Linked DNA regions of Homo sapiens. The protein of the gene in region 7 purifies or fractionates together with the protein of the main gene of each other region. This does not show direct contact. Each region holds a gene or a part of one and is shown on either strand. Other genes may lie near its edges. The genes, in order: ZC3HAV1L, USP19, ANXA2, DDX3X, CUL2, ACAA2 and EWSR1.

Evidence for each region.
Region 1: the proteins of EWSR1 (region 7) and ZC3HAV1L purify together in Homo sapiens (affinity purification with mass spectrometry, with the first as the bait; one large-scale study listed by BioGRID). This does not show direct contact.
Region 2: the proteins of EWSR1 (region 7) and USP19 purify together in Homo sapiens (affinity purification with western blotting, with the first as the bait; one study listed by BioGRID). This does not show direct contact.
Region 3: the proteins of EWSR1 (region 7) and ANXA2 purify together in Homo sapiens (affinity purification with mass spectrometry; 2 studies listed by BioGRID, with this or other methods). This does not show direct contact.
Region 4: the proteins of EWSR1 (region 7) and DDX3X purify together in Homo sapiens (affinity purification with mass spectrometry; 2 studies listed by BioGRID, with this or other methods). This does not show direct contact.
Region 5: the proteins of EWSR1 (region 7) and CUL2 purify together in Homo sapiens (affinity purification with mass spectrometry; 2 studies listed by BioGRID and IntAct, with this or other methods). This does not show direct contact.
Region 6: the proteins of EWSR1 (region 7) and ACAA2 fractionate together in Homo sapiens (co-fractionation; one large-scale study listed by BioGRID). This does not show direct contact.

The regions. Positions count from the first base shown.
Region 1 is NC_000007.14:139,026,043-139,029,542, forward strand, and holds part of ZC3HAV1L (zinc finger CCCH-type antiviral protein 1-like), read right to left. Parts: intron 2,919-3,500; coding exon 2,660-2,918; coding exon of another isoform or gene 2,589-2,659; exon of another isoform or gene 2,573-2,588; intron 792-2,572; coding exon 666-791; intron 519-665; coding exon 502-518; 3' UTR 1-501.
Region 2 is NC_000003.12:49,110,824-49,114,323, forward strand, and holds part of USP19 (ubiquitin carboxyl-terminal hydrolase 19), read right to left. Parts: intron 3,462-3,500; coding exon 3,351-3,461; intron 3,271-3,350; coding exon 3,169-3,270; intron 1,807-3,168; coding exon 1,666-1,806; intron 1,580-1,665; coding exon 1,461-1,579; intron 1,226-1,460; coding exon 1,088-1,225; intron 991-1,087; coding exon 677-990; intron 543-676; coding exon 432-542; intron 344-431; coding exon 127-343; intron 41-126; coding exon 1-40. UniProt on the Homo sapiens protein: Deubiquitinating enzyme that regulates the degradation of various proteins by removing ubiquitin moieties, thereby preventing their proteasomal degradation. Stabilizes RNF123, which promotes CDKN1B degradation and contributes to cell proliferation.
Region 3 is NC_000015.10:60,363,487-60,366,986, forward strand, and holds part of ANXA2 (annexin A2), read right to left. Parts: intron 1,038-3,500; coding exon 943-1,037; intron 1-942. UniProt on the Homo sapiens protein: Calcium-regulated membrane-binding protein whose affinity for calcium is greatly enhanced by anionic phospholipids. It binds two calcium ions with high affinity. May be involved in heat-stress response.
Region 4 is NC_000023.11:41,340,662-41,344,161, reverse strand, and holds part of DDX3X (ATP-dependent RNA helicase DDX3X), read right to left. Parts: intron 2,679-3,500; coding exon 2,546-2,678; intron 1,668-2,545; coding exon 1,509-1,667; intron 1,426-1,508; coding exon 1,326-1,425; intron 947-1,325; coding exon 811-946; intron 426-810; coding exon 340-425; intron 133-339; coding exon 34-132; intron 1-33. UniProt on the Homo sapiens protein: Multifunctional ATP-dependent RNA helicase. The ATPase activity can be stimulated by various ribo-and deoxynucleic acids indicative for a relaxed substrate specificity.
Region 5 is NC_000010.11:35,083,842-35,087,341, forward strand, and holds part of CUL2 (cullin-2), read right to left. Parts: intron 1-3,500.
Region 6 is NC_000018.10:49,803,534-49,807,033, reverse strand, and holds part of ACAA2 (3-ketoacyl-CoA thiolase, mitochondrial), read left to right. Parts: intron 1-3,500. UniProt on the Homo sapiens protein: In the production of energy from fats, this is one of the enzymes that catalyzes the last step of the mitochondrial beta-oxidation pathway, an aerobic process breaking down fatty acids into acetyl-CoA.
Region 7 is NC_000022.11:29,271,268-29,274,767, reverse strand, and holds part of EWSR1 (RNA-binding protein EWS), read right to left. Parts: intron 2,553-3,500; coding exon 2,516-2,552; intron 2,389-2,515; coding exon 2,337-2,388; intron 1,031-2,336; coding exon of another isoform or gene 1,028-1,030; coding exon 904-1,027; intron 504-903; coding exon of another isoform or gene 486-503; intron 1-485. UniProt on the Homo sapiens protein: Binds to ssRNA containing the consensus sequence 5'-AGGUAA-3'. Might normally function as a transcriptional repressor. EWS-fusion-proteins (EFPS) may play a role in the tumorigenic process.

The DNA.
Region 1 (3,500 bases), on a different chromosome or scaffold from region 7:
GATGATCACTTGAGCCCAGGAAGTCAAGGCTGCAGTGAGCCGAGATCACGTCACTGCACTCCAGCCTGGGCAACAGAGCAAGACCATCTCAAAAAAAAAAACTGTTAGAAAAAGCCAAGTAGTTAAACAAACTATGATAATATTAATGTATCTGTGCAAAAACATGATTATGTACGATGTGAACAAATATAGAAAGATGCTTATGAGACAATATTAAGTGAAAAAAAAAAATGAGTGCAAAGTACTCTAGGATTGCCACAATATAAATTGATAGAAAAACAATGGTGGACCACAGAAGTCAGCAGAGCTCCATCTACCCAGCCTGAGGAAAGCACCTAGGAGCTGCAGATAGCAGCTGCCATCTTCAGCACTTGCCCTGGACTAGCCCCATCTGCACTCAATTTTAGCCTCTCTTTGCCTGTTCAATGTCCCACCCCATCCCCAACCACCCATGCCCAAATGTATTCTTCCAAAAGGACATTTTCTCCTTTTCCATCTTCTTTACTTCTCGCAAGACACTGTGAGGTAGATATTATTATGACCATTACAAATCTATCATTAAATGAATGAATGGTTACAAATTAAAGCTAAACAGAAGGCTTGTTTTCAGATCTTCCAAGCTGGACAAGCTTCTTCTTAGTTCACTGACCCCCTTTAAGGTTTACCTGGGCAGGGCTTCTTGGCCGACTGAGCAGGGACAGAAGCCAGAGGACCAGCTTCTGCAGCTCCAGCTGCGTGCACTCCTTGCTTCTCAAGGCCTTGTGAATGCTCAGTCGAAGGTGATGAATTATCTACAAAGAGGAAAGGGATAAGTTTTCCTACGATACCCCAAGTTTCATTTTACGTTGGGAGCAACAGCCCAGCTAACCAGCCATCAGACAAGACTCCCAACACATGGATTTGGAGAGTTCATGTCTTCTGGATTTTAAAAAATTGTATGTGTGTGTGTATAAAAAATAGAGAGAGAGAGAGCAAGCGGAAAGTCACTATGTCACAGGAGAGACTCACCAAACGAAACCAGATGAAGACAATGACAGGCCCTAGACACAGCATAGGGTAGAAGGTACCTGCCACCATTCACAGTTCCCTAAACAGCCCGACACTGGTATATGCAGAGCCCTCCCTGTCTGCACTCACTACGTCTGACACTAACATCCCAACACATGAAAACTCGATGGTGAAAGCTTAGCAACTCCGCCTTTGGTGATTTACCTTTCCCAACAGCAATTCTCCTAAGCCTACCACCCACTGATTTCTAGGTACCAGCAAATGTAACAGAATAAGTAACTGAATGCATTAGAATTAAAAGAACACCAAACCACACTTTGTAGACTAAAAAACTACTAAAGGCCAGGTGCAGTGGCTCACGCCTGTCATCCCAACACTTTGGGAGGCCAGGGCTGGAGGACTGCTTGAGCCCAGGAGTTCAAAACCAGCCTGGTCAACATAGCAAAACCTTGTCCCTACAAAAGAAAAATTTTAAAAAATAGCTGGACATGGTGGCATGTGCCTGCAGTCCCAGCTACCAGGGAGGCTGAGCAGAAAGATCACTTGAGCCCAGGAGTTCGAGGCTGCAGTGAGTCATGACTGTGCCACTGTACTCCAGCCTAGGCAACAGAGCAAGATCCTGTCTTCAAAAACAACAATAAAAATTACTGAAAGACTATGGGAATATATTTATAATGGGAATATGCAATATTCCTAGCAATATGGGAAAATATGATGTTGTATAAAGTAGAAATTTAAGATATTAAATTAACATATACTTTGAGCACAATTGGATTCGTGTTTGTATATAACAGAACTGAAGGGCCTATAATAAAATTGTAACAAGTATAGTAGATTAGAGTGAGCAAAATCATATACAATTTTCATTTCCAGTTGCTATTTTCCAAATTGTTCTGTAATGTCATTAAAATTACTTAAAAATTAACAAAGCCAAAAATTATATTTATGACAAGAAAGCCATCCCTACATTAATCTTACTTTTCCACTCACCGGCCCATCTCCTTCCTCTTTTTCCTAACTATGCCATTAAAACTGTTCTACTAGGCCGGGCGTGTGGCTCATGCCTGAAATCCCAGCACTTTGGGAGGCCAAGGCAGGCAGATCATGAGGTCAAGAGATTGAGACCATCCTGGCCAACATGGTGAAACCCCGCCTCGACTAAGAATACAAAAATTAGCTGGGCATGGTGGCGCATGCCTGTAGTCTCAGCTACTCGGGAGGCTGAGGCAGAAGAATCGCTTGAACCCGGGAGGCAGAGGATGCAGTGAGCCCCGATCGCGCCACTGCACTCTAGCCTGGGCGACAGACTGAGACTCTGTCTCAAAAAAAAAAACAAAAACAAAACCTGTTCTACCTACTTCCTGACATCCAATTTACCAACAAGCTACTGTTCAATCACTTGGGTAGATTCTAGTAGCTAGCAGTGACAGTGCTAAAGATAAACTCCATCCCTTCTCTCCTTTGGTTAGGATCACCGTTCTATACAATACAATGTTGCCTGTTCTAAACTTTCCCAAGAACAAAGATGAAATTAACATAGGAACTGCTTTGCCCCCAGACTCACTTTCATGTCACTGTTCTTACTTCTTCACAGTGAAGCATCGCAAAACCATATCGCTGATACTTCTCTGTCCTTCTTGGATATTCCTACCTGTATTTTCAAGCATCTTGTGCAGCTTCATATGCTTGTAGGTGGAGATTATCTGAAAATTAACAACACTTGGAATATTCAGTCCTTGGTCCTGTAGCAGCTTCAAAGATGCAGCATGGATAAGCTGATGGGACCGTTTGCAGGTCTGAAGTTTGCATTCTCCTTTCACAAAGGATTTGCACACATGAAACTTGTTGCATTTATCCTTGAGGTTGCAGTAGCCATACAGGGCTTCCCCTTTGTTGTAGAGCAAACAGACCTGGTACAGAAATGAGGGAACACCTGAAATATTAGTTTTTCTTTTTTTTTTGGCAGCGGGGAGATGGAGTCTCGCTCTGTCACCCAGGCTGGAGTACAGTGGCACCATCTTGGCTCACTGCAACCTCCATCTCCCGCGTTCAAGCAATTCTCCTGCCTCAGCCTCCCGAGTAGCTGAGAATACAGGCGTTCACCACCACAGCCAGCTAATTTTTGTATTTTTAGAAGAGACGGGGTTTCACCATGTTGGCCAGGCTGGTCTCCAACTCCTCACCTCAGGTGATCTGCCCACCTCAGCCTCTCAAAAGTGCTGGGATTACAGGTGTGAGCCACCACACCCGGCCAATATTAGTTTTCACTCTATCTTTTAAGCCAAAAGACTATAGCTTCTCTAGCTAAACTGAAGACTAAATGACATCTTCTGATCACCAGTGGCTGTTAAAATCTTTGGGGGAAAGCCTGATGATAGTGTAGTGGTGCTAACCATACTCCCGCTGCTGTGGGCACTGGCTGCTTGTGACTCACAGCTGCCCCCTCTTACTTTACACTCTCAGCTGAACTGCCCTCTGTCCCCAAAGCCTGT
Region 2 (3,500 bases), on a different chromosome or scaffold from region 7:
CTTGGAGGCCTCACGGTGCTGTTTGCACTGTGGGCAGTACCTGGTGGGGACAGAGATTGGGTCAGGACCAGCAAGTCTCTCTCTTCTCCATCCTGCCCCCTTATCTACTTGCTGCTCTGTTCTCACCAGGCCTCCTCGGGTGCCAGCACCTCAGGCCGTGTGAAGAGGTTGAGGCACTGGTCCAGGGTGAAGTGGCCGGCCCGGGCAGCCTCACCGGCAGAGCCTGGATCCTCAGCACATTCCAGCTCCTTGGAGGCTACCAACACAAACTCCTGCAAGCGCTCATTGTTCCGCCAGACGAGAGCCAGGCTACAGTCGTCACCCAGCTCCAGTGGGGTGTCTCCTGGAGATTCGCAGGGAGAGAGGTCATGCAGCTGTGGAGAACAGCCAGCTCAACCCACCCCATGGCTCCCACCCACAGCCTCAGACACCTTTGTCCTCTAGCCGCTGCTCTCGGTTGGATGAATCAATTTTATAGATGAAGAACTGGGGTGTGTGGGCATTCATAGCTTCACTTGGATGCTGGTACCCAGGCACAGCAGCTGTGTGAGAACATGATAATCAAAGCTTCCCTGCCCATCAGGGCCTCACCAGGCCCACCAGGCCCTAAACAACAGCCCCCTCCATCCTCCCTTATCCTCCTCCCCAGCTTCTAGAGCCTTTCACTGGATCTTACCTTCGGGTCGGGACACCCTCTCGCCAGCTGGCAAGGAGCCAACCTCAATGGGCCCACTGGCCAGCATCTCAGAAGAAATTCCACTGGTGCTGGGCACAGGACCCCGGTCAGGGGCTGCCCACACCCGGGGAAGCCCTGTGTCCCCCTCAGCCATAGGGGTCACCAGCTGGAGCTCAGGTGGCTGAATGGGGTCTCTCTCGCTGTCCCCAGCCTCCAGGGAACCTGTGGAGAGCAGTGTGGTGCAGCCAGGGCTCTGAGACTCCAAGGCCATGCGGCCTGGCTGAAAGGGTGGCTGGAATACACTCACAGAGTACCTGGCAACAGAGAACAACGCAAGTAAGACTCCTGACCAGCCCATCTAGCACCTCTGCCCCCACCTACACCACTCTAGTCCAACCACTGGGCACTTACCGGGCATAGCCCTCTAGCAACTGAGCGAGGCGGGCATAAGTGAGGCGTGAGGCAGGTACACTGACCAGGAAGGGGTAGCCAATGTTCTCAGGTCGGCAGAGGCCCTTGTGGTCAGGCCAGTGGGTTTTCTGGCAGAGCCTGACGGGAAGAGGAAGACAAGGATAGGCCCTTAGCCCCATCTCCTATGACTCCATACTGGGGGCTAGTCATAGTCCCTGGGAACTGGGTACGCCAGCCCTGCCTCCCCCAGAGCCTGGTAAAGTAGGGTGGCAAGTAGAAAGCTTAAGCATATGTGCCTTGGTGTGAAGGGAAGGAGCAGGGTGGCACATGGAAGGTGGAAAGAAAGGGTAGGGGAGACCATGGGGGTCCTCACTGGTTGCAGTAGCCCACACGGTAGCACCGGGTACAGCGCTTCAGCTTTTCATCCTCCGACTGTTGCTTCCGCTGGCAGGCTGCACACTTGGAGATGGGGACGCTGGGCACCTGGGGGCGCTAGGGTGGGTCGTCTGGCTCAGCAAGACCAGGAAGAAGTGCCCCACCCACCAGGGCGCTGTGCCATCAGGTTGGCCCCCACTCACCTGTTGCACCTCTAGCACCACTACCCGCTCCTTAGCCAACTCTGAGGATAGCAGCTCAAAGCAGAGGAGCGTATCAGATGGGGACACAGTGTCCAGTGAGTGGGAGGGTAGGAACACACGATGAAAACGATTCTTAATTACCTGGGGACAGAGAACACACAGATCCCACGTGAGGATAAGCCCTTTCCCTAGCCCTGCCCCAGAGTTTAAGAAGGCTTGGCCCTGCCTTGGGTCTATGTGGGCAGTGGTGAGGTCTGTAGGCCCAAATAGGCTTATGCCTCTGCTGGCACCTGTCTCAGTGCCCAATGCCATAAGGAGCCTGGTGCATCAGAGGGCCTGAAAGACCAGGTGTGAGGCAGATATCAACCACACCAGCTCTCCACACTGAGGGACTCTGCCCTGCTATAACTAGCATAGCCTTATAAGACTGTAACATATTATCATGGAGGGTCCACATTCAAAGAGCCTCCTCCCCACTCTTACCCCTAAGAAAACCAACACTGTCAGGCTAAAGGCTAGGAACCCCTGGGGAGAGCTAGCACACACAACTGGGATAAAAGGAGAGAGCAGCAGGATAGAGGGAGAGGCAGAGCGAACATAGGGATAGTCCTGCAGCTCAAGCTCCTTGTCTAAAAAGGGAAATGCAGTTGGGATCCACCACCACAAAGGGGAATAAACCCTGATAATGGCTAGGAACTGAGGGCACTTCTGTTGCACAGAAAAAATAACAGCACATCGCCTGTTTTTGTACAGTCACAGGCATACTCATGTGTATGTCTATTTTTATTTTATTTTATTTTATTTTTGAGACAGAGTCTCACTCTGTCACCCAGGCTGGAGTGCAGTGGCGCGATCTCGGCTCACTGCAACCTCTGCCTCCCAGGTTCAAGCGATTCTCCTGCCTCAGCCTCCTGAGCAGCTGGGACTACAGACATGTGCCACCACGCCCGGCTAACTTTTCCTGTATTTTTAGTAGAGGTGGGGTTTCACCATGTAAGCCAGGGTGGTCTGGATCTCCTGACCTTGTGATCCATCAGCCTTGGCCTCCCAAAGAGCTGGGATTACAGGCATGAGCCACCACGCCTGGCCCTATTTTTATTTTTTTATCTATTTATTTATTTATTTTTGAGACAGAGTCTCACTCTGTCACCCAGGCTGGAGTGCTGTGGTGCAATCTCTGCTCACTGCAACCTCCACATCCCGGGCTCAAGTGAGCCTCTTGCCTCAGCCTCCCAAGTAGCTGGGACTATAACACGTACCACCATGCCCAGCTAATTTTATTTCTTGTAGAGACAGTGTTTCACCAAGTTGCCCAGGCTGGTCCCAAACTCCTGGGCTCAAGTGATCTGCCCACCTCGGCCTCACAAAGTGCTGGGACTACAGGCATGAGCCACTGTGCCCAGCCCATGTGTATGTCTGTAGATGCCAATGACTGTACACACGTCTGTGGTGAGTACACACACACATCCACACATGTGATAGCCCAAGGAAGGACAAAGATACCTCCGCCAAACGCAGGTTCTCAGGCTTCACATGAACACTCTGAGAGAGGGAGTCCAATACTTCGCTCGCAGTGGAGTTCTCCTTGCTGACGCTCACCAGGAACTGTGGCAAAAAGGGCAGTCAGTGAGGGAGGTGGGCCACGTTCTCTAGAACAGCCCAGAGGGTAGGGGCTTACTCCTCACCTTGATGGGCTTGCTGTGGGGCTCTCGGGCAAAATAAAAGACAGGGAGAACCTTTTGCTTTTGTGGCAAGGGCACCGGCAGATAAAGAAACGGGTCAAAAGTGATGGAGACCTGTGGATGTAGAGGTGGCACTGGGTAGCTGCACACAGA
Region 3 (3,500 bases), on a different chromosome or scaffold from region 7:
AAGTCAAACGGGAGCTGCAGGAAGCCACACTTACTGCACTGTCCAAGAATAAATCAAAAGCTTTTAATAGCAAGAAGTTAAAAATAAAGCAGCACGTCCTTAAAAATAAAATTTCCTACAACTGACAAAATAAAGGACGAACACGCACTGGTTGTTTCTTAACCACTAGTGGACAAGCAAAGGGAAAAAGCACACAAAGACCCTTTAAATAGTAGGAGCATGGCATGTTGAAGATAGCTTTGCAGACCAAATGAACTAACAACTAAGCCCACTCGTTGCAAAAAGCTTAAGAATTCAAGTGTATATTTTTAAAATGAGAGGAGCTTGTTAGGATCAACACTCAGTGGAGGCTAGTATCCTAAAATTAAATTAGAAACATCTTATCAAGAACCAGCAGAAGTCATAAAGATGAAATGAGTTGCTACATGTACAAAACTGAGCACAGTGCCTGGCCCAAAGTAAGCACTCAATAAATGGTGCCTGTTGTTGTTATTGTTGTTGTTCCCTATTCCTAACTTTCTATTCCCAGAAGCTCTCCCTCCAGGTAGCCTGGGTTGGGGGAGGGTACTGTCCTTACACAGGAGCTCCCAAGCACTCTAAAGCGAGCGTGACCATCTGCGCTCTGCCTCCTCTCAGATCAACGGTGGCATGAGATTCTCACAGAAGCGCGAACCCTACTGTGAACTGCACACGCGAGGGATCTATGTTGTACACTCCTTATGAGAACCTAATGCCTGATGACCTGAGGTGCACGCGCGCGTGCACACACGCACACACACATGTGCAGTGACTCTTACAAGGATTTAAGAAGAAAATCTTAGATATCCAAGGGTCCCACAAGTCTTTTGCGCATGAGAGCCACAATTCATGAAAAGAAAAAGCAATGTCTGAGGAAACAAAAATTCAACAAGAAATGCCCTCCATCCCTGGAATTGCCTGTACCTTTTTGGTCCTTCTCTGGTAGGCGAAGGCAATATCCTGTCTCTGTGCATTGCTGCGGTTGGTCAAAATGTTGACAATGGTGACCTCATCCACACCTATGGAAATACAAGTTGTTAATCGTTACTCAGTATACTCTAGTATTTTGGGCTTACATAGAAGGTGTCAAGCAGACTTTTTCAAACTGAAATTTATATACTGTTTTCCAAACTGAAATACCCAGACACCAAGATTTGTTCTATCTCTTTCGTCAGCATCCTCTACCCAATGTGTACACTCTCTTTCCTTTTTTCTTGAGAGCCTCAAACCTCAAGCTTAAATGGACCTTTTAAATACTTGTGGTTTAAAAACTATTTTATTCATAAATTGGTTTCTGGAATCAACAGTAGGAGGTGCATATGTGGGGCTTTGGCAGTCAGATGGAACAACAGAGATTTAGTAGGATTTTAAATGAAGGTCCCCAAATTGCCATTTAACTCGGGATTTAATAGAGAGTAACTGCAAACTGAATTAATAGAGATAATTATTTATACTTATTGCAGGATTATGGCTATATAAGCAGCTAGGTATAATTTCTATAATTATAAAAACTGTCATGACAAATGAGTCAGATTTAACACGGCAGTTGTATTTTTAATAGCATAATTGATTAACACAATCACACTTATTGAAGACAAAATTGTTTTGTAAGGAAAATAAACGTTCCACTGCCTTTAATCTTCAATAGGCAATTTTAATAATTAATTTTATAACTTTATTAAAAAGAGTAAGTGTTTTAATCTAAATTAAATCTAAATTGGGAGTTTTGAGGTGCCACCAAAATATTTTAGTACCTATTTTAATTGGAACATGTGTATTTACAAAGATAAGCAATGCCTTCTGGTGTCTGCAAGTTTCCAATTTCATATCAGAAATACTCCTAACATGCCATTTAACTTAAGAAAGCACAGTTTGTAAATTCAGAATGTGAAAAGTCTCTCTCCTGACTGATTAATAACTTTGTTTAATGAAAGAAACAGTCTTTGCCATAACTGGATAGGTAACTCTTGGGTGAGAGAGTAGAGTTGCTAAACCTACAAAGTCACTTGCAAACTACAAATGGCTTGGCCTGAAGAAAATCAGAGGAGTCCTGAAGAAACAGAAAGGTCAAAACTGTAACGCTTGAGACAAAGACAAACAGCAGATTGACAGAGGAAGTATTTTGAATTCTCAAGTGTGTTAGATCAAAAAGTATAAAGTTAGAATTTCTGGGTATAAAAATAAATAACTTTTTAAAATGTATATGCTCATTTCAAAGCAAGTCCATACCAATATGCTTGCTATCTTAACTGTAGCATCTATAACTTTAGCTCTCATTTTTAGAGTAGCCAAGGTAAACATAGAAATCCAATTGCTGCTGAGTCTCCCTCTCCCTCTCCCTCTCCCCCTCCCCCTCCCCCTCCCTCTCCCTCCACGGTCTCCCTCTGATGCCGAGCCAAAGCTGGACGGTACTGCTGCCATCTCGGCTCACTGCAACCTCCCTGCCTGATTCTCCTGCCTCAGCCTGCCGAGTGCCTGCGATTGCAGGCGCGCGCCGCCACGCCTGACTGGTTTTCGTTTTTTTTTGGTGGAGACGGGGTTTCGCTGTGTTGGCCGGGCTGGTCTCCAGCTCCTAACCGCGAGTGATCCGCCAGCCTCGGCCTCCCGAGGTGCTGGGATTGCAGATGGAGTCTCGTTCACTCAGTGCTCAATGGTGCCCAGGCTGGAGTGCAGTGGCGTGATCTCGGCTCGCTACAACCACCTCCCAGCCGCCTGCCTTGGCCTCCCAAAGAGCCCAGATTGCAGCCTCTGCCCGGCCGCCACCCCGTCTGGGAAGTGAGGAGCGTCTCTGCCTGGCCGCCCATCGTCTGGGATATGAGGAGCCCCTCTGCCTGGCTGCCCAGTCTGGAAAGTGAGGAGCGCCTCTTCCCCGCCGCCATCCCATCTAGGAAGTGAGGAGCATCTCTGCGCGGCCGCCCATCGTCTGAGATGTGGGGAGCACCTCTGCCCCACCGCCCTGTCTGGGATGTGAGGAGCGCCTCTGCCCGGCCGCGACCCTGTCTGGGAGATGAGGAGCGTCTCTGCCCGGCCGCTCCGTCTGAGAAGTGAGGAAACCCTCTGCCTGGCAACCGCCCCGTCTGAGAAGTGAGGAGCCCCTCCGTCCGGCAACCACCCCGTCTGGGAAGTGAGGAGCGTCTCCGCCCGGCAGCCACCCCGTCCGGGAGGGAGGTGGGGGGGGTCAGCCCCCCGCCCGGCCAGCCGCCCCGTCCGGGAGGTGAGGGGCTCCTCTGCCCGGCCGCCCCTACTGGGAAGTGAGGAGCCCCTCTGCCCGGCCAGCCGCCCCGTCCGGGAGGGAGGCGGGGGGGGGGGGGGTCGGCCAGCCGCCCCGTCCGGGAGGGAGGTGGGGGGGTCAGCCCCCCGCCCGGCCGGCCGCCCCGTCCGGGAGGTGAGGGGCGCCTCTGCCCGGCCGCCCCTACTGGGAAGTGAGGACCCCTCTGCCCGGCCAGCCGCCCCGTCCGGGAGGGAGGTGGGGGGGTCAGCCC
Region 4 (3,500 bases), on a different chromosome or scaffold from region 7:
AAAAAGCTAATAATCACTGGAACTCATACTTACTTTTCTGGCTTCCTCGTAGATCTGTACTGCCAACTCTCTCGTTGGTGCTAATACCAAGGAGATTGGGTATTGTTTGCGGCGCCCATACCTTCCATTTTCCTAAGAAATAAGTTAATTTTTAAGTTAACTCTACCTACCCTGTTTGAAAAGTTCATCACAACATAATTCCCTTTTGTAATTTATAGATTACAGATTACACTTGAAAACTGGTTTTCATTCTACTTAAGTCTTAGCATCATTTAGAAAGCCCTCTCAATGGCCACCTACAAAGTTCTACAATTTCCCATTTTATAAAGAAACATCTACCTTCATGGCCCTCAAAGCCTCGCCTGGACCATCTGAATAAATCTGACTCAAGATGGGCAACAGAAATGCTGCAGTTTTTCCAGACCCTGTTCAAAAACAAACAAACAAATCCTGCTCATTACTTTTAAACAGACATTGGTAGATGACAGTGTTTTTTAACTACCCTATTACTAATAATTAGTACTTTTAGTTTATGCTTAAGTTTTCCAAAAAGTGGCTTCTCTGCTCCACCTCTAAGAGGAGTCAGCAAACTGAGACTATTTTGTAAATAAAGCCTGTTATTTTTATAAATAAAGCTCTTACGGAATACAGCCGTAACCAATAATTTATGTATCATCTATGGCTTCTTTCACAGTCCAATAGCAGCGCAGAGCAGCTGCAAAACTGCATGACCCATAAAAAATAAAATATTTTATTGTCTAGTCCTTTACAGAAGAAATATGATGTTTTACTCTTATGAGTTGAGCTTACCTGTTTGGGCACAAGCCATCAAGTCTCTTTTCTCTTTGATAATAGGAATAGCATGCTTTTGCACTGGAGTTGGGCGAGTATAACGAGTAAGCTCAATGTTTCCCATGATAATTTCTCCCATCTCAACATCACTGAACTGTTAAGAAATTCAATGGGGTTAGGAATGCTATCTAGAGCTATTTCTGTTTTATACTAATAATGGAAACAACCAACCAACAGCTGATTGGTAACTCAGTTTATAGTTTAAGTAAAATTATCACATTATACTTTGAGAAAAACCAACCCCCAGGCTTACTGCACATTGGAGAAGACTTTGGGTTGTTCCTATGTTTGACCCATTTTCTATTTTAGGTAATAAATTATTCATAATGGTGACACTGAACTCAACTTCTCCTTTTCCACAAATCTATGAAGCCTCTGGTCTACATGACTTTATGAAGCCCATCTCACATTCTAATGTAACATGAAAACATTTAACCTCTCTGTGTCTTAAAAAGTCAAGCAAAAATACTCACACTTTCAATATGTGGAGGACAGTTGTTGCCTGTTGCCTCAACTGGAATGTCATCGTATTTCTCAAAATTAATCCCAGTGTTGCCTCCAGAAAAGAGTTCCCTCAAATCAAAAAATGGATAAGTTCATTTGTTATACTAGCTAGTAAGGCTTCATCACAAGTAACATACACTTCAAAAACTTACTGTTCCAAGCGTTCACTTGGTGGGAGTGGTTTTGACCAATCATCTTCATCTGATTTGTCACACCAGCGACTGTTTCCACCACGTTCAAATTTGCCAAAGCCACTTCTGTCACCACGGCTGCCAATGCCATCGTAATCACTCCGTCCACGATCATCAAACCTGAACAGCACAAGCAATTAATCAGAATCATATCATTTAACCATTATCAGATTCTTATCCCTACTCTAGAACTGTATCTGGAGACTTAAGTTATGGCTAACCATAAGGATGTCAACAATCCAATTCTGAGTTACTTGACAAATAAGGCTCTCTAACCAGCATCATTTACATAACCTCGTTTTCTAAAATCAGTAATCTTTACATTTCTATAAAGTTGTATAGCCTAAAAGGCCTCACAGATGCCAAAATTAAGAATAAGGATTTTATTTGAAATCGGCACACAGCTCACAACCTTCATTTAAAGTGCTCATCCAAATATATTTAATGGTAGGGAAAACAAGAAAATAGCACACCAAATATCAATCGTCCTAGTTATACTAGGATGTCACTTAAAGGACAATTCACCTGTGTGACAGACTTTGGATAAAAGGTAGAAAATAATCCTTACCTGAACTAAGATGTTTTTAAGAGTTTTAGGCCTGTTTGCGAAAAATCAGGACACAGGACTAACCACAGCTATTAGGCACGTGGGGTCAGTTCACCACACTTGTGTAATCAAAAATACAAGGTGTTTAGAAATTGTTATAGAGTCCACAAAAATCCCAACCAAATTAGGCCATTCACTAGATGAACTTACTCTTTTAAGTAGAACATATAAAACTCGAGAAATAGAATAACTCATTTCATTATGCCAATGAGCATATTCCTATTTTCATCTAATTTCTAAGTAACAGGTTCAATTTAGTAAAAGCCTCTTACGGCTAAGAAAATACAATGACCAAACAGACATAATGCTTAACATCCAAACAGGTGGTCAGGATAACGACTTATTAAACTGTTATTATACATACACGTAAGGTGATTAAGAAATCACTTACCTTCCCCTTGATCCACTTCCACGATCACTGAAGAAGCTAGACTTCCCTCTTGAATCACTACGAGATCCAAAACTGCTATACGCATCCTTATCTTTGCTAGAACTCCACCCTGAACTGTCTTTATCGTAGAAACCTTTGATTAAAAAAGCACAAATACATTTTATTATTAATTAGAAATAGGAACCATGTTAAGGTATTATCAATCTTTCTGAATTTGAAAGCCTCCACTGACTATCCCTACCATGGCACTGTAAGAGAACCAAGATTTAAAGCTGGTTTACACCCGGACAAAGTTTTTCTTTAATTCTCCCCACTAGAAAATACTGTCCACTGGCCAGGCATGGTGGCTCACGCCTGTAATCCCAGCACTTTGGGAGGCCAAGGCGGGCAGGTCACCTGAGGTCAGGAGTTCGAGACTAGCCTGACCAACATGGAGAAACCCCGTCTCTACTACATATACAATATTAGCCAGGCGTGGTGGCCCACGTCTGTAATCCCAGCTACTCAGGAGGCTGAGGCAGGAGAATCACTTGAACCCGGGAGGCTGAGGTTGCAGTGAGCCAAGATTGCGCCACTGCACTCCAGCACGGGAAACAAGAGTGAAACACCCTTGTCTCAAAAAAAAAAAAATTACTTTACACTAAATCAAGCAATCTGACAGTCTAAGAATGTTTCTCAATGAATACTACCTCTAAGTGGTCAACAGCTTTGCCTGTAACGCATTATGACGTTGTGTGACCATAACAATTTAATTTCCATTCATTTTATAGGTGTGAATGAGTTTACTAGGAAAAACAGTTACCATTGTTTCCATGTTTCTTGGAGGTGGTATTCATTTAGAACATTCATAGACTGTCAGATTACTTGGTTTAATACAGTATTTTTCAGTTTCAATAGTATAAAGTACAAGAACACTAATGTCAAATTGTAGTATTATTTTAGTGGTTCATCTACT
Region 5 (3,500 bases), on a different chromosome or scaffold from region 7:
CTGAATTAAAACAAGGCTGAGATATTTTTAAAAATTTACATATGGCAAATCCATGTTTCATTCTTTGAAAAGCAACCTACAATAGAGAAAGACTAAGTCACTGAATTAATAGATGTAACTAACATTATTTATAATGTTAAACTATATAAAAGAGGCCAGGCACAGTGGCTCACACCTGTAATCCCAGCACCTTGGAAGGCCAAAGAGGGCGGATCTCTTGAGGTCAGGAGTTCAAGACCAGCCTGGTCAACATGGCAAAACCCTATCTCTACTAAAAATATAAAAATTAGTCAGGTGTGGTGGCAGACACCTATAGTCCCAGCTACTTGGGAGGCTGAGGCAGGAGAATCACTTGAACCCAGGAGGCAGAGGTTGCAGTGAGCTGAGATCGCGCCACTGCACTACAGCTTGGGTGACGAGTGAAACTCTGTCTCAAACAAGCAAACAAGACACAGTATCAGTCTGAATTTTTAATTCTCCAGAATAACAAAGCTTAAAGCAAAAGGAAATATTCCACCTCTCCTCCTCCAAAAGAAAAATCAACAGGGTTCAAGGCACCCCGGAAGTTTCTACAGATCCAACACCACAATCTTAACCTAACACTACTACTGTCTCAAAACTTTTAAGAATCAAAGGGATTGTCTCCAATAAGCCTTTCCCAATGAAAAGCCAAATATAAAGTACTGATATAGAAATCTATACATTCTTAAAGGTAACCCAAAGATTATGCTAACTGCAATATGACAGATACGTTACCAGTAAGATTCAAACCCAGGCACAGAGCCAAATCACTCTGAATAGATATTGTGATTAACTGATTACTGAGAGAGGGTTCAGTCATACATCTCATAGATCAATAACTTGTTATAAATCTCATAACATTCCAAATCGCTGCTTGTTTTTCCAAGATTTAACATGAGCCAGTCATAAGTCCTCATAATATTAAGATTCTAGGGCTGATCCTGTCATCAATTTACTTAAAAACAACTGATAGTTGGACAGGCCTGGTGGCTCACACTTGTAATCCCAGCACTTTGGTAAGCCGAGGCAAGTGAATCATGAGGTCAGGAGTTCAAGACCAGCCTGGCCAACATGGTGAAACCCCGTCTCTACTAAAAATACAAAAAAATTAGCTGGGGGTGGTGGTGGGCGCCTGTAATCCCAGTTACTTGGGAAGCTGAGGCAGGAGAGTCTCTTAAATGCCAGAGGCGGAGAATGCAGTCAGCCGAGATTGTGCCACTGCACTCCAGCCTGGGTGACAGTGTGAGACTCCATCTCAAAAAATAATAATAATAAAAAATAACTGGCTGGGTGTGGTGGCTCACACCTGTAATCCCAGCACTCTGGGAGGCTGAGGCAGGCAGATCACAAGGTCAGGAGATTGAGACCATCCTGGCTAACACAGTGAAACCCCGTCTCTACTAAAAAAATACAAAAAATTAGCCAGGCATGGTGGCGGCTGCCTGTAGTCCCAGCTACTTTGGAGACTGAGGCAGGAGAATGGCGTAGACCCAGGAGGCAGAGCTTGCAGTGAGCTGAGATCGCGCCACTGCGCTCCAGCCTGGGCGACAAAGCGAGACACCGTCCCAAAAAAAAATAAAAATAAAAATAACTGTTAGGGCCAGGCGCGGTGTGGCTCACACCTGTAATCCCAGCACTTTGGGACACTGAGGAAGGCGGACCACAAGGTCAGGAGATCAAGACCATCCTGGCTAACACGGTGAAACTCCATCTCTATGAAAAATACAAAAAATTAGCCGGGCATGGTGGCAGGCGCCTGTAGTCCCAGCTACTCGGGAGGCTGAGGCAGAATGGTGTGAACCCGGGAACCAGAGACACAGCCAGACTCTGTCTCAAAAAAAAAAAAAAAAAAAAAACTGATAGTGCATATGAAACATTGCTTTCAATCACAGCCAGACATTTTTCCAGAATACACAAAGAACAGGCAGATAAGGTAGAACACAAAACAAACAGTGCAAACTTTTGTAAAGTCTCACAAAAAGAAACAGCTTTTTACAGCGAGGGAGGAAGGGCATAAGGGTTGAAAAACGGTTGGGTACTATGTTCAGCACCTGAGTGACGGGATCATTGTATCCTAAACCTCAGCATCACACAATATACCCGGGTAACAAACCTACGTGTGTACCTCCTGAATCTAAAATGAAAGTTGAAAAAGATAAAAATAAAGAAACAAGCAGCCTGGCCAACATAGTGAAACCTTGTCTCTACTAAAAATACAAAAATTAGCTGAGAGTGGTGGAGGGCGCCTGTAGTCCCAGCTCGGGAAGTGGAGGCTGCAGTGGGCTGAGATTGAGCCCCTGCACTCCAGACTGAGAGACTCTGTCTCAAAAAAAAAAAAGAAACAAGAAACAAGGCCGGGCACAGTGGATCACGCCTGTAATCCTAACACTTAGGGAGGCTGAGGTGGGAGAATTGTTTGAGCCCAGGAGTTCGAGACCAGCCTGGGCAACACAATGAAACTCTCTTAGTTCTGTCACCCAGGCTGGAGTATAGTGGCTCACTGCAGCCTCCACCTCCTGGGTTCAAGTAATCCTCTCACCTCAACCTCCCTAGCAGCTGGGATTACAGGCCTGCACCACCACACCTGGCTAATTTCTGTATTTTTTGTACAGACAGGGTTCGCCATGTTGCCCAAGCTGGTCTCAAGCTGCTGGGCTCAAGTGATCCACCCACCTCAACCTCCCAAAGTGCTGGGATTACAGGCCTGAGCCACCGTACGTGGCCGGAAACAGCTTTTTAAACAACTCCACACCTGTAGGTCAAAAACTTAACGAGACCAGCCTGGCCAACATGGTGAAGCCCCATCTCTACTAAAAATACAAACTCCAGCCTGGGTGACAGAGCGAACACCATCTCAAAATAAATAAATAAATAAATAAATGAACTTAACAAGGGCAGGGACCAAATCAGAAAATGCTGCAGTACTCCACAGTTTTATCCTCTTTCTACATTCTCTGTGTTCTCATCCTATTTCATAACTTAACTACTATTTAACACTCTAAAAAATACAAATGTCAAAGTAAAGTGTACTACTGTTTCTGCAAAGTGGGAACAATATTTGCTTATATGTCCACAAATATTTTTTTCCAAGGAGATCTAAGAAACAGCTAACAATGTTTGGCTCCAAGGAAAGCTGGATGACAAGGGTACAAGAAGTGGAGGGAGATTTTCATTCTATTCCCTACTGACAATTTTATATTTTGGTTTTCTGTTTGTTTTAGAGACAGGGTCTCACTCTGTCACTCAGGCTGGAGTGCAGTGGTGCAATCACAGATCACTGCCACTTCCAACCTGGTCATCTGGCCTCAGCTTCCCAACAGCGGGTACTACAGGCGTGCGCCACCACGCCTGGCTAATGTTTTTTAAATTATTTTTTGTAGACATGGGGTCTCACCATGTTGCCCAGACTAACATCTTAAATTTTGAGCCATGTGAATACAGTTTTTGTTCAAAACATTAGTATACCAATAAATAAATGC
Region 6 (3,500 bases), on a different chromosome or scaffold from region 7:
TGGAAAGACGATCCTTTTTCCAGTGAATTGCCTTTCCTCCTTTGTCAGACCTTGAGGTTCTGGCTTTGTTTTTTAATCTTTTTTTTTTCATCTGTTCTTCAGATTGGTTAATTTCTATTTATCTATCTTCAAAGTCGCTGAATTTTTCTCCTTTCATTTCTATTTTGCTGTTAAGCCCATCCAGGGAATTTTTTATTTCAGGTATTTTCCAGTTTTGGAATTTCCATTTTGGATTTTTATAGTATGTATTTCTTTACTGAGATGTCCTATGTTTTATTAGGAGCATATTTTCCTCTACATCCTTGAGCATAGTTGTAATAGAATGCTATTTTAAAATCCTTGTCTGCTAATTTCAGTGTCTGGGTCTTCTTGGGATTGGTCTCTGTTGATTGTCATATTTTTTGTTTCCTCATATGTGGATTAACTTTGAATTATATTATGAATATTGCAGATGGAACATTGTGGAGACTGGATTCTGTTATAATCCTGCAGACAGAACTGACTTATTGATTGGTTGGCTATTTATTTTTTGTAGACAGTTACTTTGCCTACAAAATCACCCCCATGCACCCCCGTGATAAACTATGTCTCCCCTTGTAGTGGGCAGCAGCTTAAATCTAAGTTCAGTTTTTTAAGGCTTGGCTTAGGTGCTTGTGGTCTGACCTACACATGAATGGCTAAGGAGTCAGCCAAATATTTGGGCAGAGTTTATATGTGAAATTTGGAATCTCGCTCTATGGTGCTCCTCTTTCCCAGATTCTCATTCACTTTCTAGTGGCTGTGCTTACCATGAATTTTATTCTCTGATTCTTCAAGCCAGTAAGACTGTTTCTGAGTTCTAGCCATTCCATGCATCATGGACTGTTAGTCTTCAAGTTAGTTGCTATAAATAAATTGGACACTTACCCTGTTCTGTTCCCTTCCTCTAAGTATCAACTCTTCTCCTTACCTGTCTAGTTTTGTTCATTTCCAAGACCGTCAGGTAGTAGTTGTTCTTATATATTGTCTGGAGTTTTTCATTGTTATCTGTTGGAGGGTTGGTCAGATAGGAGCATAGTAGGCCATGACCAGAAGCAGAACTAATGAAATTAGGAAGAAGGCATGGAAAGAGGAAAGAAGAATGAAATAAAGCAACCACTGATAGGCCAGGTGCAGTAGCTCATGCCTATAATCCTAGCAGTTTGGGAGGCCAAGGTGGGAGGATTGCTTGAGCCCAGGAGTTCGAGACCAGCCTGGGAAACATAGCAAGACCCCATCTCTACAAAAAAAAAAAAGAAAAAAAGGTAAAAATTAGCCAGGTGTGGTGGCACATGCCTGTAGTCCTACCTACTTGGGAGGCTGAGGCAGGGGGATCACTTGAGTTGGGAAAGTCGAGGCTGCAGAGGTCGAGGCTGCAGGGAGCTGTGATCACATCACTGCACTCTAGCCTGGGCACAGAGCAAGACTGTCTCAAAAAAAAAAGAAAACACTGATATAAAAATAGGCAGAGACTGTTAAGGAAGGAGGATGAAAGGAAACTTGAAAAGATTCAGGAAGGCATCATGGTACAGAATAACCAATTTACCAGAACAAAACGTTTGTAATGCACTCGACTAGTATTTATGGCCTTTTGTAACTATCTGAATTTGTATCTGTAAAAAACTGAGTGGATCTGTTCTAAATTATAGTTATATATATTGCTCCTAATATTCCTTTAAACTGCAAATTTCTCAAAATAGGAATGAAAAGAGAGGTTGAAATAGAAATATTTTAGGCTAGGCTTGGTTTGTTTGATGAAAGAGATCATAAACTGGAAGATTATACTTAGATACCAGTAGTGGTATAATGCTTGAATAGTCTCATTTGTAGATCAGTATCTTATCACAAACCCATTGCCGAAAGTCCCATAATTTCTTGACAAGATGTGGAAATGTGAGCTTAGATTGTCTTGGAGAGAATAAAGTTAGTATATGCAAAGTGCTAGCATGAAGTCTATTCCATAGTAAGTGTCCCCTCTATGTTAGCTATAATATTTACCTTGCAGAGTTGCTGGGAAGATTAGCTTTTGTGTGGAAAGTGATAAAATGTCTAGTATTTAGTAGACACCTAATGAATGTCAATATGATGAAATGGCTATAACTGATGCTGCTTACTGATATGCCGGTTTTGCACTGTACAGCTCTAATGATGATGAGTGGGTACCACTCACATCATAATCATATATTTGTATAGTCACAAGTTTTTTTTTGGCAGATGGTAGTAGGTGATTGGGAAGGGGTGATTTTTATTTATTTGTACAAGGACACCGATTTAACTAATAGTGATGCTGCAAATTTATAGTCTTAGTTTGTATTAGTAGATGTATAGATAATTCCTCTATTCTTTGTGATTAGATAAAATGCATGCTATTTTTGTTATATTCTTATATTCTAAGGGACACATTTTAATAGGATGTTGGCAAACTACAGTGTCTTTAGAGGAAAGCAGTCAGAATTAATGTCAAATAAAAAACTATTGAAAGAATGCCTTTAATTTACCTGAGATGAGAGTCACTAGGTTTGGGGACTTACAGGTTAGCTGACTTCAGATACTGGAGGTGGGGGATACACATGTAGAAGGTAACCTGTTTTGCCCATTTTTTTTCTAAGAGTAAAAGATAATAGTTCAGGTTATTTATTTGAAGTCTGTAACTTGAGTCATCCTGTGACTCTAGAACCGGTAGCAGCATATATTCTAGAAACTACATCTCTATCTGTGTTGGTGCTTTTGGAGAGAACTAGAATTGGTGGATGGAAGACTTTGTAAGCTGAGTTAGTTCAATATAAAGAAATATCATTCGTTGGGGCCGGGAGTGGGTGACTCACGCCTGTAATTCTAGCACTTTGGGAGGCTGAGGTGGGTGGATCCCCTGAGGTCAGGAGTTCAAGACCAGCCTGGCCAACATGGTGAAACCCCGTCTCTACTAAAAATACAAAAATTAGCCGGGCCTGGTGGTGGGTGTCTGTAGTCCCAGCTACTCGGGAGGCTGAGGCAGGAGAATCACTTGAACCCGGGAGGCGGAGGTTGCAGTGAGCCGAAATCGCGCCACTGCGCTCCAGCCTGGGCGACAAGAGCAAAACTCTGTCTCCAAAAAAAAAAAAAAAAAAGCAATATCATTAGTTTATGTTGTCCATGACCAGCACACTGTTTCATGCAGTAGAGTATGCCCTCTTACTGAAAGTTTCCTGGCAGAGGTTTAGAGAGAACCTTTTGTCAGGAATTTTTAGAGGTAGTTCTTATAGAGTGAGTGGTTGACCTCAGACAACCCTAAGGCACCTTCTAGTTTGGAGATTCTTTTATTCTAATACTAGGCAATATACTCCAGCACATAGAAGAAGGATTTTAGTTCTCAACATATGTTTCTAGCATTGTGAAGCATCAGAGAACAAGAAAGTTGTCTAACCAGAATGGCTTTACATCACAGTGTAGCAGGACGAGCCACAGTCAAAACTCCTCAGACACTGGATTAAAGAAGGAAGAGG
Region 7 (3,500 bases):
TATTTTTTAGTATCTTGGAATAATGTTATATATATTCAAGACATACCATGGATTAAAATAATTCATAACACTTAAAACAGAAAATAAAATGTGTCTGGACTAGAAACCAACCAATAGACAAACATGATACATGCAGGGTGGCAGTCTGCTCCTCTAAATAAATCTCATCATGCAATCTATCCTTCAGGGAACAGGGGAAAATCAGCTGGGGAGAAATCACCTGAAATACCTTTGGGAAGGTAAATAACTATTATTAAGGCTTGAAACAAAGTAATATTAAATAAAAAAACCTTTCCCAAAATCATATAAAGAATAGGACATGGATCTGCAAATGGCACCTGAAGCAGTTTTTCATTAGCACCTTGCTGTGTGTGATGTTAGAAAGTTTGGGGGTTCAACAAATGAAAACACCTAAAGGATTAACATTACAGGGTTAGACAAGATGGAAAGCATTTCCCATGCAAGAATGAGCAGGATAGTCAAACCTGTACTGGTCCCTTCTACTGTGGAAAGCACAAAACAAAAAGTAGAGGGTACACTATCAGATGAAGCAAACATGTGAAAACCAGTTTGATTTTTAAGCAGCTCAATTTAAGAAGACTCATTCTTACTCAGTATTAGCATTAGCAAAATCTTTTACATAGTCTCCATTTCATCGTGAGATTATTCAAACAGTTAAAAGTTCTTTTCTCTCTTGGAATTTATCCCACCCACATTCTATTGGAGATCTCTCAAGACTATAAGAGTAGGGAAGAAAGAGAAAAAATACCTCTTCCTAAGAATAAAGGATTCCCCAGATGCCAAGGTATGGACCAGAATATACATCCGAAAGCATGACTAATAAGCTTCTTAGCCAATGCCCTAGCCAGAACGACCCAAAAATCTCTCCAAGGCAGGCCTTACCAGTGGGAGGCTGTCCATAAGAAGTTGCATAGGCGGTCTGCCCATAGGTTGCAGTGGTCTGAGCCTGGGTATAGCTGACATCAGTGGGCTGTCCATAGGTTCCATAGCTTTGTTGCCCATATGCCTGCTCCAAAAAAAAACGAATGCAAGAACTTCATACATGAACTTTTGTATTTTAGCAATAAAATGGACTAAATTGGAGAACCAAAATCAAAAACATTCCTTTCTAGAAGATTAAAAAAACAAAACAAAAACAACAAAACAAGACAAATAATCACAGTATCATGAATGTTATCCCTTATCTGGTTCACTCATATTATGGTAAAGTTAGCTACGGAAAAAGCTCATTAGGTAAGTAGGCAATGTCATTCACAGCTTCTCAAAAGGGGGAAAAAAAAGATAATCAGGCAAAACCTCAGTTAACTATACATGAGATTAACAAGACACTCTCAAGGGAAGAGCAATAAGGGCACAGGTGTATTAACTGCTAGCACTTAGCGTAGCACAGTTTTAGTGATTGGAAACAAAAGGTACGAAGACAAATGAACAGAGAAAGCAATGAAGAGGGCTAAAATCTGTCAGAAAAAATTGAAAACCAGATTTTCAGCCTGACAAAAAGACTTTAAAACTACTATACCACTTCAAAGAAAATGAACCAGAACGCTGTATGTCCTCTTATGGTGGGCACATCAAGAGTACTGTCTTTTGAACTTAGACATCCATAATACTTAAAATCAGGCAAGGAAGAGTTGTTCTTTCAGATATTAGCATGATTATTCTCTAGGTTTGTTTAAATGACCAGTTATGTAAGATCTGCCAGAGACATCACATTCTGCTTGTCCTAGAACATGTTTCCATGGCAGTTATTAGTATCCATTTTATGGCATGGATCATTTCAGAATTCAACATTATCTTGAAAACACTAGAAGGCTAATTTCTAGAATCTGTTGGCCTAGGCTTTTCAACAGACTCTTCACTGGAAAGAGCTCAGCAGCTCCTTGGCTAGGTCGCCAGTTTTTAGAGCTAACCCCGCCACTTACTGTGCAACCACTGGCAAGTTACTTAATATCTATGCACTGCAATGTTCTCCTCTGCAGAATGGTCATATCATCCTCTTCCTTTGCAGAATTGCTATGATGAATAAATTCACTAAATTTAAACATAATGAAGAAGGACCAAGCATGGAACAGGGCACCTAACTTGAGAAATCATATTAAAAAGTTATAAAGAGTCAATTATCAGCTTCTGAATGGTTTCATTTATGATGGCACAATGGAGTCCTTCGCACTCCCACTGTGAAAGTTTAAAATGCCTGGGTATTTTACTATTCCAAACACATTACTCATTTGTTTTACTGGATAACTGAAAGATAACTGGATAATATACTGATTTTACTTGGAGGTGCAGCTACATGTAATTATTTTAAAGATTACCTGGGTGGTCTGTGCATATCCTTGAGTGGGCTGGGCGGTGTAAGCACTGTAGCTGCAAAAGAATTAAATGCAATAACTTGAATAGAGAACATTCAAATACCACCTCTACAATTATAGAAGGCTCCATATTCAAAAAATATTAATCACACACAAAATACGGTTATAAAAGACTGACTTACCCCTGCTGCGCTGCAGCTTGGCTATAGGTACTGTAATCTAGAGGAAAACAAGGAGGAAAAATAGTGTAAAGTTAGCAGAAACAAGGAGAAGAGAAAAAAGGGGGAAAGAATTCACGTGGCAGGAAGAATTCTTTAAACTGTAGGGAGACCTGCCAACACAGGTCCAAATGAGTCCCCCTTACCTCTCAACATCTAACAGAAAAAAAAGTCTAAACCAGTTAAACTCAACATTTGACTGTGGGACTAGCTAATGAGGTCAAGATCAGCTGATTTGGCAGGTATACTTTTTATGTTCCCATGACCACAAAACCCATCCCAATCCCAACTGTCATTTAAAATACAGGATGATCATCAATATCACAGACTGACAACAAGATCTACTAACAGGATCAGAAGTTTCTACCCTCATATAAAACGGAGGCATGCAACAATAATACAAAGTTTAACACTAGATTGGTTACGTTAGAACCTACCTCTCCTCAAAAATTAGTTTTCACTCCCCTCACTTTAGCAAGTTAGACAAACCATCATTCCCTAGCTCAACGACAGTGAAACGGAATGGCAGACAAGAAGGCAGTCACCACACTCCAGTGTTTTAAAGGGTTTGCTGTGTCAGAACTATATTTGTGCAGCAACTTAAAAGCTAGATATATTATAAACCCTGGTGAAGCAGAGCTAAGGCAGAACCCTGAAGACTGGCAAAGAAGAAAAAGCATTTAGTCTTTCTGGGAAAAATTTGGTAACACCATTGTCTTTCATACAACTCAAAATGATTTCAACTTAAAAAAAAGACATGAATTTTCATCCCTTATCTAAGTAAACCTCCCTATAATTTTCCTTTTCCTATGAAATTTATAACATGCATCCAAAGGGACCAAAAACTGGTCCACTGAGGTGTCTACAAGTAGTAAAAACAAACGGAAAATAGTTTTCAGAGCGCTACTGCATTAAAGTTAGATAAATTTAGTTTTTTTTTAAAGGCAGT